Regions from separate parts of the Homo sapiens genome. Here region 1 is linked to region 2. The links come from fine-mapping of genetic effects on gene expression. Tissue or cell type: skeletal muscle. Region 2 holds a variant in brackets; the other region holds the start of a gene. All regions are shown on one strand. Distances are from middle to middle.

The links. PIP is the estimated chance that this variant, and not a neighbour inherited with it, causes the effect.
Region 1: it holds the start of CHRDL1, and the variant in region 2 is fine-mapped to the expression of CHRDL1 in skeletal muscle (GTEx, PIP above 0.99).

The regions. Positions count from the first base shown.
Region 1 is chrX:110,792,309-110,800,419 of GRCh38, forward strand. It overlaps CHRDL1 (chordin like 1), which reads right to left and starts at 3,509. Exons shown (of 12, transcript NM_001143981.2): 1 at 3,436-3,509.
Region 2 is chrX:110,484,528-110,492,638 of GRCh38, forward strand. No RefSeq gene overlaps it. Among named protein-coding and RNA genes, the nearest start is that of CRIPTO3, 32 kb to the right of the region's middle. The variant T/C (reference allele first, on the strand shown) is at 5,010.

The sequences.
Region 1 (8,111 bases), 310 kb after region 2:
AAAAAAATGTCCTAGAATTTACATAAGTGTAAGTATTGTCTGCCTGCACAAGATAAAGGACTTGCCTCTCCTGTCTTGCAAGGCTTGTGGGTGAAAATTCAAGTGAATGAGGGTGCATTCCTATCCAAAGCTGAGGCTAAGTCCTTACAGGCAAGTTATAGGAAAATGAAAATAAATTTTGAAATCTTCCTTTCTAAGGGAATTAAAGTTGATTTCTCAAGAGATTTTTTTGGGAGAAAAGGGAAACTTTAGCTTGCAAAAACGGTTATTTTAGCAAACAAGGTAAAAGTAACAAGCATGAGACCAAGCAATTTCTGAAATGAAAGTTAACTAATCTTAGCTTCAAGACTACTTTTAATCCTTTTGGAATGAAGTACAAATTGATCAGTTTCTCCTGTGTCCTCTATGAGATCTACAAGGATCTTTGGTTTGGCAACTAATATTGCAAAAGATAGATGTAATTAGCAAATGGATGCAATTAAACACCTGAAAAGTTTTACTGCTTAAAATGGTTCCAACATATTCCTCCCCCAAGAAGTCCATTGTAAAATGGAAATTTTAAATGGGCCATTTTTAGGGGAAATTGGGCAAATTAAATAGATAATTTGTTCACCTTGCACCACCATGCAAAAGACCATTAAAACAACTACAGTTCTTCAAAACATGAGATTGGCATTCCCAGTATAAGGGGTAGAAATCTTAAACCTTTTGAACCTTGGAACACAGAAAGTTTGCTGTAGCTCACATCTAGTCACGGATCATTTCCACAGATGTTAGAGTTTGCAAAATTCCTCCAATGGGTGATCTGAAAATATTGAAATGTTCTAAAAACACCAGATTCAATCTGAATGGGAAATGAACTCATTGATCTTTCCAGAAAGTCCAACCTAAATATTGCACATAAAGAACTTGAAGGAATGCAAAACGATCATTTTGGAGAGTTGAATATCTTTGGGCTCTGAAGTAGATGCTACAGCTCCTACTTAAATGCTATGAAGTTGCCTGGGTCATTCAAAATCCACTGTTTCAATTATGAATGCATAACCAAGGAAGAACTGATGATAGAGTAATCTGTGCTATCAAACAAGATTTGCAGCACCGTCTGCCTTCCTTCTTTACCTCCTCCCTGCTCCTTAAAGAACCAAATTCTCTCAGGACATGTTCCTACCCATCTAAAGACCTGAGTTCTGATGTCTTGGTCCCCTCTGTGAGTTTGTGGCCCACTTACAATCACTCAGAATGTTACTGTCCCTTGAGGGCTACCACGTTTATTCGAAACAAATCATTTTCATTAACAATTTAACACAGCTACCCACCTCAGTGAGGTTCTTCCTGAGCCTATTCTAATAAGTTTATTCCCCAAGCCTCCAAAAGAGAAAGATTTTTAACCACTGAAATCCAATTTATCACATTCATATATGGATTTCAACGGGTGTTTCTGAAACCATGGTTTTAGGGTCTCCCCATGCGAGAATCAACAGGGCTGCTTTTCTTGTATAATGGTTGGGCGATTCGGTGAACTGTAGCATTGCTTCATAACTCAAGTTGGCAAGAAAACAGCTCATAGATTTTTTTGCCTTTCTTAGGTCCCAACTAATATTATGAGCAAATAAAAAAGTTGGTAACTAGAGAGCAATTAATCTCCTTTGGCGTTCCTGTCATCTGTGTGGCCTCCCAGGCTGTGATGGAGAACATCAGAAAATGAATCGCTTTATAAATATTCACTTTTGATTTACAAGATCCTGAAGTCCTGCCTTTGTATTCTGTGCAGAAATATGAACCAAGAAGAGTTCCCTCCCCAGATCTCCTCACTGTTCAATTTCTCTTTATCTCTTCAGCTTTTTCTTTTAGGGAAGGGGGTGGTTCAAAACATGTGTTGGGACTGCAGCAGTAAACACTAGCAAGCATTGCTCAGCGAACTTAGCCGACTCTTATTCTTGCAAAGAGCCAAACTGTCCTTAATTTTTCAAATTATACTTTGACCCAGTTAACTGGAGTTATTTCTGCATTAACTCTCTGTCTGCTTCACACAGGCTGTTGTGCCATTGAACTTGCACTGGCTCTTTTACAGGTTACTTAGACATGTAGCCATTGACATGCTTCAGGGGATCCAGGACCCAACAAGAAAGCAACAACAACAACAAAAAAACAAAACCCTGCAACTAACACAGGTAGTGGAGGTGGGATGGGAGAGTTCCTGTGTTTTACAAGAGAAAGAGAAATGTATCAAGTACCAAAAGAAAGGTATTTATTAAGGTGCTTCCATGAAACAAGCATTCACATTGTTCATCTGCGTTAAGCAAAGGGACCAACTGCTCCTTGCCCAGCTGTGACTGCAAGGCAATCTGGGCCATCAAGTGTCAGGAGCCCACTTTCAGAACAGGTCTCCTGGGTAGAACAGAAGCAAAGAGACATCCCCACAGGAAGGCTAAGGGATGAACACATGTCAGCCAGTTCTTCACGCCCCACAGTGTCTCTTTAATCCTCCTGAGAGGCTTGACTGACCTTGTAATCTCACATTGACTATCATCTGTGGGACAGCCCCTAGGGTAGCAATTTTCTTTCCGACAAACAATAAGAAAGACACTGGAGTCCCAGGCCCTTGTCCATCAGCTGAAATCCTCTCCCCACTCTACCACCCAGCAAGAAAAGTTCAGTTAACTGGTGGTGTGTTGCCACTGAAAATGGCAGTTTTAACCCAGGGTATCTCTTGTTGGAGGAAATGCTTTCATTGCTGCTTATGACTGACAAACAATGCCTCGCATTTGGCTTGCAAAACACCTTTCTATCATTTCATTTCATTCCACACAACTCCACCTTCAAAATGGGCACTGGGGGGACCCAGAGAACTCAAATAACTTTAGTGGCAGGGCTGGGAGGGACTGGAAAGCAGGCTTTCCGGGCCCTATGTTCTGGCAATATACCACGTTGCTTCCAGAGCCTAGTGTCTCAAATTCTGACCCCCGTAGTCAGGGACAAAAAATGAGGCAGATGGCCAGAGGATAGGATAGGGAGCCTTTCGCCCATCTACCCTGCTACATTAACTTTACCATGTATTCATCAGCAAAATGAGAAAACAGGCTCAGGAATACAGGCAGTGATTAAGGGGACTGCAGAGTCCCTTGGGTAGCTCAGGGTGGAGTACCTAAGTGACCTCTCAAAGCGCCAGAGCATAAAGAAATGCAGGCCGAGTGGGGAGGGACGAGCTGTGAGTTCGAATTCAGAGACCCCCAACTTGCTTTGGTCAGAAGCCTTGGGCCCCACCTCCATCCAGGTTGCTAACTGCTGGAGCACAGAACAGGTTGGGGTGGCAGGGGAATTTGGGGCACCCTGGGGAAACTTCCAGGGACGGCTCCGGCCAAGAGAAGGCAACCCACCTGTGCAAAGGCTGGAAAAGGAGGTGAGGGAAGCGGGCGCCGGGCACTGCTCACTAACCTGGGCACTGGCCTTCTCCGTCTGCCACGCGTGCACGCGCTCCGAGCTCCCCGGGGCGCTCTCGTCCGAGGTCTGGGGCTGGCAGGTTGTGGCGAGAGCTAGAGTGCGCGCGAGGGGGGAGGGGGAACTCAAAAGTGGGTGGGAGGAAAAACATCACCGCCCTCACACCACGAGGGAGCAGCGGCTTGCTCGGCTCCCGGGGGCAGAGCCAAGGCGCGGGCGCGGCGGCCCGGGGCCACCTGCCCGCCCTCCCGCTCGCTCCCCACTTGGCCCGAGAAGCCGGCCGCTCGGCGCTGGCGGGAAGTCCGCAAGCACGCAGCCGCTGCAAGCACGCACACTTTCTCCACCCCGGCACAATGGCTTTATTTCTGCTCCCCCGGCCCGAAAGTTTAAAAATCGGGAGAAAGTGTGAGACTCAGCCGGCTACTTTCCCATCACACAGCGCCCCCACTGCAGCCCCCACTCCTTTGGCTAGGCGAGCGTTGGGGTCTTAAAGGGACCGCACAGCTCCTCCGGTCCCTCCTCCCCCTCTGCACTGGATGCACCTAGGAGCTCCCCACCACTCGCGCACGCCCTGAAGATACCGACTACCCTCTGACTCCCCTGCCTGGAAGCCCACACCCGCTCTCCTCCGGCACCAAGGCCTTTCCGAGGTGTGCACCTGGTCTGGTACTGAGCTGGTGCCCTGGACACAGAATGAACCCTCCTCGCAAATCACGCCCTAGCATGCTGCTTATCATTTCACGGCGTTTCCCATATCCACACTGTGGCTAACAGAGTGACAAAGCTTTGGTTTGGTGTCCTTAAAGGCGGGGTGGAGATGGGTGTGTGTAGGGTCAGGGATTAGAAATCCACTTTCTCTTACAAACTGGGCTCCCAAGCCTCATGGAAAGGGCCTGTTCTAACTGTTAAGTGTCTTGAAGAAAACTTGGTGCCACACACTATACCCACCATTTTTTTTTTAAATGAGTCCCTAAGCTTCTAAGTTGGGCCAAGAGCTCAACCTGGAAATCACAGTAGCACTGCTGATGCCTTGGTGGGCCTGCCTACTCCAAATTTGTGTTTATTCAACAAGTGATAGTTGCAAAGAATTGTCAGAAACTTCTAGGGTCCAGGAAAGTGCTGCCTCGACAGACAAAATTTTAAGCCCCTAAATTTGGAGAAGAACCGCAGAGCTTTTTTCTAGATGAACTAGATAAATATCTATATTCCTAACATCTGTATAGTACTTTATGGCTTACGGAGTGTTTTCACATACATCAACATTACTTTTTAAACCCTCAAAACCAACCGAACTACCTGAGGTCTCAAGTGTTAGAGTTGGTGGGGAACTTCTGAACCATTCAGCTTAACTTCATCATTTCACAGAAGAGGAAACTGAATTGGGGGAAGAGGATGATGTATCTAAGGTCACACAGCTAGTAAATGACAAATTTGAGATTCCAATCCAGATTCCCTGACTTTCAACCCACTACTCTCTGGTTGTTATCTCCAGTCTGTAGATGAGGAAATTGATGTTCAGAGAAACTGTGGCTTGTCAAAAAAACAAACAAACAAACAAACAAACCACTTATCAGGAACAGAAAACAAAGAAAAATTAAAACAAGAATAATTGTCCCTGAACGTTACCTCCTTTTGCTTTTTCAGAAGTGTTAATAGTATCCAGCTAGCCCCTGCATTGCTGGTGATGTTTATTTCACTGTTAACAAAGGAAAGGGGGCCCTTTCTGTAATGTTGCCTTCAGGGCCCAAAATGTCTAGCTCCGTCCTGCTGCCTGGGTAGCCATACACTGCCACATGCATTCAATTTGTGCTGTTGTATATCGGTTTGAACTTGCTGATTTGTTGCCTTATAACTGTTCTCATGCCGTTTAATGCAGTGATGTTTTGTCTTACTAGATTGTGAGTTCTTCAAGGGCAAGGACTGGTTGTTCAATTTCTCTTGTGCGTGCATTACCCAACTCCCATCATTACTTCCAACATGCTTACAGAGTATTCTGGAAAATGAGTTTCAAGGGATAGTCTGAGACAAACATAAATTCTAGCATTTAAAATAAATAGACTCACTGGGATTTAAAAGTTCATCTATTTGGCTACAACCACTCACTCCCTTGCTTGGTGTAGAATCCTAATTACTGCATAACAAACCATCCGAAAACCTAGTGGCTTAAAGCAAGCAATTATTCTCAATTGGTTCTATTGAGTTGATTCTATTGAACTTGCTTAAGATCTCTTATGCAGTTGCAGGCAACTGTATATGGGGCTGCTGGAATTCTCTGACAGGTTTTTCATTAGTGTAAATGTTAGTCATCCTTGTATTTTGTATTAGTTCCAATCTTGATTTCTGAATTGAGAACTCCCATTTGGGTGAGTCCTAATCTAGACATCCTACCAGGTCTTATAGAAACTTAAGTGATGATTACCTTCATGCTTTATTTTCTCTGTTTATTAAATAGGGATGAGAGCATAATCTCATACTCATTTTTTAAAAAGTTTTATTTTAAGATAATGGTAGATTTACATGCAGTTGTAAGAAATAATTCAGAAAGATCTCAAATACCCTTCACCTAGTTTTCCCCAATGATAACATCATTCATAAATATAGTACAATGTCACAACAGGACACTGACATTGGTACAATCCATTCATCTTACTCTGATTTCACCAGTTTTATATGCACTCATTTGCCTGTGTATATAATTCTATGCAATTTTATCGCATGTGTATATTCATGTGACCACCACCACAGTAAAAATATAAAACAGCGCCATTACCACAAGGATACCCTGTATTACACTTTAATAGTCACACCCATCTTTTCCCTTCCTCCTCTCCCTACTCCCTGTCAACTACTAAACTAAATTGTCCTACATCTCTATAATTTTGTCATTTAAGAATGTTACGTGGAATCATACGGTATGCAACCTTTTGAGATAGTCTCTTCTCTCTTCTCCCCCAACCCTGATATAATTCTCTGGAGACCCATTCAAGTTGTTCCTGGTATCAATAGTTTGTTCCTTTTCATTGCTGAGTGGTATTCCATGGTAGGGATATATCACAATTTGTTTAAACCATTCATCTATTGGAGGGTTGAGTCTAGATTTCGGTTACAACTGCTATGAACATTTGTCTACAGGTATTTGAATAAGCGTAAGTGTTCATTTCTCTGGGATAAATACCCAACAATGTAGTTCCTGGGTTGTATGGTAAATGCATGTTTAGTTTTGTAAGGACTGTCATACTGTTTTTAGAGCAACTGTACTATTTTATATTCCCACCAGAAATGTGTGAGAGATCCAGTTTATCTGCATTCTTGCCAGCATTTTTTGTTGTCATTATTTTTTATTTTAGCCATTCTGGTAGGTATATAGTGATATCTCATTGTGGTTTTAACTTGCATTTCCCTAAAACCTAATGATATCTACCATCTTTTCATTGTTTATTTGACACCTGTATATCTTATCACAAATATTTTATCCCAGTCTGTAGCTTTTCTTTTCATCCTCTTCCCTTGAACTTCCACAAAACAAAATTTTTTAATGTTTTATGTCCAATGTATCAAATTTCTGTCATATAGGTCATGTTTTGGCATTAAGTTTAAGAACCCTTTACCTAGCTCTAGATCCTGAATATTTTCTTCTATATTTTTGTTTTAAAAGTGTTATAAAGTTTTACATTTAATTATGATCTATTTTGAGTTAATTTTTATAAAAGGTATAAGGTTTAGGTTGATGTTCATATTTTGCCTATATATTTTTGTCCAATTGCTCCAGTATCATTTGTTGAAAAAGCTATCTTTCTTTCATTGAATTGCTTTTACACCTTGATCAAACATTGGTTGGTCATATTGTGTGAATCTATTTCTGGCTTCTCTATTTGATCCCATTGATCTATGTGTCTATGCCTCCACCAGTACCACGCAGTCTCGATTACTGTAGACATATGGTAGGCCTGAATTTCAAGTAGAGTGGGTCCTCCCACTTTATTCCTCTTTTTTAGGGTTGTTTTAGCTACTCTAGGTCTTGTACCTTTCCACATAAACTTTAGAATAAACTTGTCTATGTCTACAAAATATCTTACTGGAATTTAGCTAGAAATTGCATTAAACCTATTGATCAATTTGGGGACAATTGACAAATTTAATTTGTTGAGCATTCCAATCCATGAACACAGTATCTCTCCATTTATTTAGGTCTTCTTTGATTTCATTCACCAGTGTTTTGTAGTTTTCAGCATATGACTTCTATACATATTTTGTTAGACTCGTATCTACATATTTCTTTTTCTTTGGAGCAATTGCAAATGTTATTGTATTTTTAATTTCAGTTTCCATGCACTCATTGCTAGTATATATGAATGCAAGTAGTTGTTGTGTGCTGATCTTCTATGCCATGTGTTGCAGAACTCATACTTATTTAAAAAATAAATATGTAAGTGGAGGTATTATGAAATGATTATATACAAAATAATTTTCTGATAGCACAAACTTTTTGCCTTTTAGTGCTTCTTGTCCCACTGGGACTTAGAAAACTCAGGTTATTAAATTAACTTTCAAAAATGGCAGAATACATAAAGATTGATGAGTATATTGTACTATAGGTTTACCTCTTTTTAGAAAAGATGCCACCAACTTAGAGTTTGTATTAATCAGATACTTGATTCAATATATAGAAGTTG
Region 2 (8,111 bases):
GATTCTGATTTGCCTAAATAAAAATCCAAACTCTTCCCCTAGTCTCCAACTCTATCTCTTATGCTGTTTCACAAATTTTGATTCCTATCACCCTTTTACTGGTCTATTTCAGCTCAGCTCGTATCTCGTTACTGAATGTTTTTATTCTGGTAAAAATGTACATAACAAGATTTGCCATTCTTGTCATTTTAAGTGTATACTTCAGTGGTATTAAATACATTTATATTATTGTTCAACAATCATCACCATCCATCTCCAGAAATGTCTCATCTTCCCAAACTGAAATTCTGTAGCCATTAAAACGCGAACTACCCAGTTCTCCCTTTCCCCATCTTCTGACAACCACCACCAATTTTCTGTCTCTATAAATGTGAATCCTCTAGATCCCTCATATAAGTGAAATCATACAATGCTTCTATAAATATTGGTGTACAAATATCTTATTAGTCCATGCTTTTAATTATTTTGGAGATATATCCAGAAGTGGAATTGCTGAATCATATGGTAATTCTATGTTTAACTTTTTGAGGAAACACCATGCTGGTTTCCATAGTGGATACACCATTCTACATTCCCACCAGCAATGCACAAGGATTTCAATTTTTTCACATCATTACCAACACTTGTTATTTTCTTTTTTTTTTTTAAATAGCCATCCTAATGTATATGAAATGGTACCTTCATATCATTTCAATTTACAATTTTCTAATAATTACTGGTGTTGAGTATATTTTCATGGTTCACTGACCATCTGTATAACTTCTTTGGAGAAATATCTATTCAAATCCTTTGCCTAGTTTTAAATTGGGTTGTCTTTTGTTGTTGTTGAATTTCAGGTTTCTTTACATATTCTGGATATTAACTTCTTATCAGACATGTGATTTGCAAATATTTTCTTCCATTCACTGGTTTGTGTTTTCATTCTGTTGATAATGACATTTGAGGCACAAACGTTTTTAATTTTAATAAAGTCTGATTTATTAATTTTTTGTTTTGTTGCCTGTGTTTTTGGTGTCATAGCCAATAAATCATTACCAATCCAATGTCATGTAGCTTTTCCCCTGTGTTTTCTTCTAACTTTTGTAAGGTAAGTGTCTAACTTTGTTCTTTCATATGTAGATATCCAAATTTCCAATACCATTTGTTGAAGAAACTTTCCTTTCCCCCATTGAATGATCCTGGCACTTTTCTAGAAAATCTTTTGATCATATATTCTAGGACTTATTTCTGGGGACTCTATTTTATTCCACTGGTCTATATGTCTGTCTTTGTTCCAATACCACATTATTTTTATTATTATAGCTTTGTAGTAAGTTTTTAAATCAGGAAATATGAGACCTCCAACTTTGTTCTTCTTTTTCAAGATTGTCTTGACTATTCAGGGTTTCTTGAGATACCATATAAAAATTTTAGAATGGGTTTTTCTATTTCCGCAAAAAAAAATACTTGGGATATTTATAGGGATGGCATTGAATGTATAGGTTGCTTTGGGAAGCATTAATATCTTTTTTTTTTTTTTTTGAGACAGAGTCTCGCTCTTTTGCCCAGGGTGGAGTGCAGTGGCGCAATGTTGGCTCACTGCAACCTCCACTTCCCTGCATCCCAGGTTCAAGAGATTCTTTTGCCTCAGCCTCCTGAATAGCTGGGATTACAGGCACACACCACCATACACGGTGAATTTTTGTATTATTAGTAGAGATGGGGTTTCACCATGTTGGCCAGGCTGGTCTCGAGCTCCTAACCTCAGGTAATCCTCCTGCCATGGCCTCCCAAAAGTGTTGGGATTACAGGCATGTGCAAGTATGTTTTTCGTACAATGACTTATTTTCTTCTGGGTGGATACCTAGTAGTGGGATTGCTGGATTAAATGGTAGATCTACTTTTAGTTCTTTAAGGAATCTCCACATTGTTTTCCATAGTGCTTGTACTAGTTTACCTTCCCACGAACAGTATAAAAGTGTTCCCTTTTCACCACATCCACACCAACATCTATTATTTTTTTATTTTTTTGATTATGGCCATTCTTGCAGGAGGGAGGTGGTGTGGCATTGTGGTTTTGATTTGCATTTCCCTGATAATTAGTTGAGCATTTTCCCATATGCATGTTGACCATTTGTATATCTTCTTTTGAGAATTGGCTATCCATGTCCTTAGACTATTTTTTAATTGGAATTTTTGATTTGTTTTGTTTTTGCTGATTTGTTTGAGTTCTTTGTAGATTCTGGATATTAGTCCTTTGTTGGATATGTAGATTGTGAAGATTTTCTCCCATTCTGTGGGCTGTCTGTTAACTCTGTTGATTATTTATTTTGCTGTGCAGAAACTTTTTAGTTTAATCGAGTCCCATCTATTTATCTTCGTTTTTGTTGCATTTGCTTTTGGGTTCTTGGTCATGAAGTCTTTGTCTAAGCGAATGTCTAGAAGGGTTTTGCTGATGTTATCTTCTGGTATGGTTTCAGGTCTTATATTTGAGTCTTTGATCCATCTTGGGTTGATTTTTCTATAAAGTAAGAGAGGATGATCCAGTTTCATTCTCCTACATGTGGCTTGCCAGTTATCCCAGTACCATTTGTTGAATAGAGTGTCCTTTCCCCACTTCATGTTTTTGTTTGCTTTGTCGAAGATCAGTTGGCTGTAAGTATTTAGCTTTGTTTCTGGGTTCTGTATTATGTTCCATTGGGCTATGTGCCTATTTTTATACCAGTACTATGCTGTTTTGGTGACTATGGCCTTATAATATAGTTTGAAGTTGGGTAATGTGATACCTCTCGATTTGTTCCTTTGCTTAGTCTTGCTTCAGGTATGCAGGCTCTTTTTTGGTTCCATATGAATTTTAGGATTGCTTCTTCTAGTTCTGTGAAGAATGATGGTATTTTGATGGGAACTGCATTGAATTTGTATATTGCTTTTGGCAGTATAGTCATTTTCACAATATTGATTCTACTCATCCATGGGATGTGTTTCCATTTGTTTGCGTCGTCCATGATTTCTTTCAGCAGAGTTTTTTAGTTTTCCTTGTAGAGATCTTTCACCTCCTTGGTTAGGCATATTCCTAAGTATTTTCTTTTCTTTTTGCAACTATTGGGAAAGGGGTTGACTTCTTGCTTGATTCTCAGCTTGGTCGCTGTTGGTGTGTAGTAGAGCTACTGATTTGTGTACATTAACTTTGTATCCTGAAACTTTGCTGAATTCATTGACCAGCTCTAGGAGCTTTTTGGATGAGTCTTTAGGGTTTTCTAGGTATACAATCATGTCATCAGCAAACAGTGACAGTTTGACTTCCTCTTTACTGATTTGGATGGCCTTTATTTCTTTCTGTTGTCTGACTGCTCTGGTTAGGACTTACAGTACTATTTTGAATGGAAGTGGTGAAAGTGGGCATCCTTGTCTTGCTTCATTTCTCAGGGGCAATTCTTTCAACTTTTTCCCATTCAGTATAATGTTGGCTGTGGGTTTGTCATAGATGGCTTTTATTACCTTAAGATAAGTCCCTTCTATGCTAATTTTGCTGACTGTTTTCATCATAAAGGGATGCTGGATTTTGTCAAATGTCTTTTCTGTGTCTATGGAATGATCATGTGATTTTTGTTTTTAATTCTGCTTATGTGATGTATCACATTTATTGACTTACATATGTTAAATCATCCCTGCATCCCTGGTATGAAACCCACTTGATGATGGCGGGTTATCTTTTTGATATGCTGTTGGACTCGGCTCACTAGTATTTTGTTGTGCATTTTTGCATCTTTATTCGTCAGGTATATTGGTCTGTAGTTTCCTTTTTTTGTCACATCCTCCCCTGGTTTTGGTGTTAGGGTGATACTGGCTTCATAGAATGATTTAGGGAGGATTCCCTATTTCTCTATCTTTTAGAATAGTTGTCAATAAGATTGGTATCAATACTTATTTGAATGTCTGATAGAATTCAGCTGTAAATCCATCTGGTCCTGGACTTTTTGTTGTTGGCAATTTTTAAATTACCATTTCAATCTTGTTGCTTGTTATTGGTCTGTTCAGAGATTCTATATCTTCCTGGATTAATCTAGGAAGATTGTATATTTCCAGGAGTTTATCCATCTCCTCTAGGTTTTCTAGTTTATGAGCATCCAGGTGTTCACAGTAGCCTCGAATAATCTTCTGTATTTCTGTGGTATCAGTTGTAATATCTCCTGTTTCATTTCTAATCCAGTTTATGTGGATCTTCAATCTTCTTTTCTTGGTTAATCTCGCTAATGGTCCATCAATTTTGTTCATCTTTTCAAAGAACCATCTTTTTGTTTCATTTATCTTTTGTATTTTTTTGTTTCAATTTCATTTAGTTCTGCTCTGATCTTTGTTATTTCTTTTCTTCCGCTGGGTTTGAGTTTGGATTGTTCTTGTTTCTCCAGTTCCATGAGATATGACCTTAGATTGTCTATTTGTGCTTTCAGACTTTTTGATGAAGGCGTTTAATGCTATAAACTACACTTTTAGCACCGCTTTTGCTGTATCCCAGAGTTTTGATACGTTGTGTCACTATTATCATTCAGTTCAAAGAATTTTTTAAATTTCCATCTTGATTTTATTGTTGACCCAGTGATCATTCAGGAGCAGGTTACTTAATTTCCATGTATTTGCATGGTTTTGAGGCTTCCTTCTGGAGTTGATATCAAATTTTATTCCACCGTGGTCTGAGTATTTGATATAATTTTGATTTTCTTAAATTTACTGAGACTTGTTTTGTGGCCTATCATATGGTCTATCTTGGAGAATGTTCCATGTGCTGATGAATAGAATGTATATTTTGCAGTTGTTGGATAGAATGTTCTGTAAATATCTGTTAAGTCAATTTGTTCTAGGGTATATTTTAAATCCATAGTTTCTTTGTTTACTTTATGTCTTGATAACCTGTCTAGTGCTGTCAGTGGAGTATTGAAGTCCCCCACTATTATTGTGTTGTCATCAATTTCATTTCTTAGGTCTAGTGGTAATTGTTTTATAAATTCGGGAGCTCCAGCGTTAGGTGCATA[T/C]ATATTTAGAACTGTGATATTTTCCTGTTGGAATAGTCCTTTTATCATTATATAATGCCCCTCTTTGTCTTTTTAAACTGCCATTGCTTTAAAGTTTGTTTTGTCTGATGTAAGAATAGCTACTCCTGCTCGCTTTTGGTGTCCCCTTTACCTTAAGTTTATATGAGTTCTTATGTGTTAGGTGAGTCTCCTGAAGACAGTAGAAACTTGGTTGGTGAATTCTTACCCATTCTGCCAATCTGTATTTTTAAAGTGAAGCATTTAGGCTGTTTATATTCAATGTTAGTATTACTTTTTTTTTATTGAGATGGAGTCTTGCTCTGTTGCCCAGGTTGGAGTGCAGTGGTGTAATCTTGGCTCACTGCCAACCTCTGCCACCCGGGTTCAAACAATTCTCGTGCCTCAGCCTCCCAAGTAGCTGGGACTACAGGCACGTGCCACCATACCAGGCTAATTTTTTTTGTATTTTTATTAGAGACGGGGGTTTCACCATGTTGGCCAGGCTGATCTTGAACTCTTGACTTCAGGTGATCTGCCTGCCTCGGCCTCCCAAAGTTCTGGGATTACAGGCATGAGCCTCAATGTTAGTATTGAGATGTGAGGTACTATTCTATTCATCATGTTAGTCATTGCCTGAATACCTTGGTGGTTTTTTTTTTTTTCAGCTAGTCCTGCCTCCTATCTGCCATCTTAATCCCCTCTGATATCTTAATGATATTGAGTCTTCCAATTGTGAACATGGGATGGGATGGGATGGGATATCTTTCCAATTTTGGTGTTTTTTTTCATTGTTTTTGTTTTATAGGTCCTGTGAGATTTATGCTTTAAGGAGGTTCTATTTTGGTGTATTTCGAGGAATTCTTTCAAGATTTAGAGCTCCTTTTAGCAGTTCTTGTAGTGCTGGCCTGGTATTGGTGAATTTGCTCAGCATTTGTTTGTCTGGAAAAGACTATCTTTCCTTCATTTATGAAGCTTAGTTTCGCTGGATACAGAATTCTTGGCTGATAGTTGTTTTGTTTAAGGAGGCTAAAAACAGGACCCCAATCTTTTCTAGCTTGAATGGTTTCTGCTGAGAAATCTGTTAATCTGATAGGTTTTCCTTTATAGGTTATGTGATGCTTTTGCCTCACAGCCCTTAAGATTCTTTCCTTTGTCTTGACTTTAGATAACCTGATGTGCCTAGGTGTGCCTAGGTGATGATCTTTTTGTGATTAATTTCTCAGGTGTTCTTTGAACTTCTTGTATTTGGATGTCTAGATCTCTAGCAAGGCTGGGGAAGTTTTCCTCAATTATTCCCTCAAATATGTTTTTCAAACTTTTATATTTCTCTTCTTCTTTGGGAACACCAATTATTCTTAATTTTGGATATTTAAGATAGTCCCAAACTTCTTTAAGGTTTCATTCTTTTTAAAAAATTCTTTTCTCTTCATCTTTGATGGATTGGGTTAATTCAAAAGCCTTGTCTTTGAGCTCTGAAGTTTTTCTTCTGCTTGTTCCATTCTATTGCTGAGACTTTCCAGTGCATTTTGCATTTCTCTAAGTGTGTCCTTGATTTCCAGAAGTTGTGATTGTGTTTTATTTATGCCACCTACTTCACTGAATAATTTTCCTTTCATATTCTGTATCATATTTTTTATTTCTTTAGGTTGGACTTTACGTTTCTCTGGTGCCTCCTAGATTAGCTTAATAATCAACCTTCTGATTTCTTTTTCTGGCAATTCAGAGATTTTGTCTTGGTTTGGGTCCATTGCTGGTGAGCTGATATGATCTTTTGGGTTGGAGGGGGCGGTTTAAAGAATCTCGTTTTGTTATATTACCAGAATTGTTTTTCTGGTTCCTTTTCATTTGGGTAGACTATGTCAGAGGGAAGAGCTAGGATTCAAGGGGTGCTATTCAGATTCTTTTGTCCCACGGGGTGCTCCATTGATGTAGTGCTAACCCCCTTCCCCTAGGGATGTGGCTTCCTGAGAGCTGAACTGTAGTGATTGTTTTGCTCTTCTGGGTCTAGCCACCCAGCAGAGCTCCTGGGCTCCAGGCTGGTACTGGGGAGTGTCTGCAAAGAGTCCTGTGATGTGATCCATCTTCAGGTCTTGCAGCCATGGATACCAGCACCTGCTCCACTGGAGGTAGCAGGGGAGTGAAGTGGACTCTGTGAGGGTCCTTGCTTGTGTTTTTGTTCAGTGCACTGGTTTTGTGTAGGTTGGCCTCCAGCCAGGAGGTAGGCATTTCAAGAGTGCATCAGTTGTGGTCCTATAGGGAGGAGGCAAACTTGCCCTAGGGATACCTGGTTAAGCATTCAGGTTTCTCAGGTGGTGGGCAGGGTCAAAGAGCTCCCAAGAGATTATGACTTTTGTCTTTGGCTACCAGGGCAGGTATAGAAAGACCACCAGGTGGGGGCAGGGATAGGCATGTCTGAACTCAGCCTCTCTTTGGGCTGGGCTTCCTGCAGCTGCTGTGGGGCTGGGCTTCCTGCAGCTGCTGTGGAGAATGGGGGTGAGTTTCCTAATCCAATGGAGTTATGCTCCCAGGGGGATTATGGCTGTCTCTGCCGAGTCATACAGGTTGCCAGGGAAGTGGGGGAAAGCCGGCAGTCACAGTCCTCATCCCACTCCCATGCAGCTCACAGTCCTAAAGTCCAGTCTCACTCCTACTGTGCCCCCTCAACAGCACTGAGTTTATTTCCAGGCAGCTGGTGACCAGGGCTGAGAACTTGCCCCAGACCACCAGCCTGCCCGCTGAGAAAGCAAGCAGATTTACAGGTTTTTGGCATCTCAGGGAGCCTGCAGCGGTGATCCTGTCCTTAAAAGGGTCTGTGGATTATCTCGGCTTTTCTGGTATGTTCCTGTGGTAGTTCTTGGAGCAAAAGTTAATGATGTTAGTCTGCACACACTGCTCTCTCTGTCCAGGTGGGGGCTGCAAGCTAGTCCTGCCTCCTATCCGCCATCTTAATCCCCCTGATATCTTAACGATATTGAGTCTTCCAATTGTGACCATGGGATGGGATGTCTTTCCGATTTTGGGGGTTTTAAAAATTATTTTTCAGCAATATTTTGCAGTTTTCACTGAACAAGTGTTTCACCTCTTTGGTTAAGTTTATTCCTA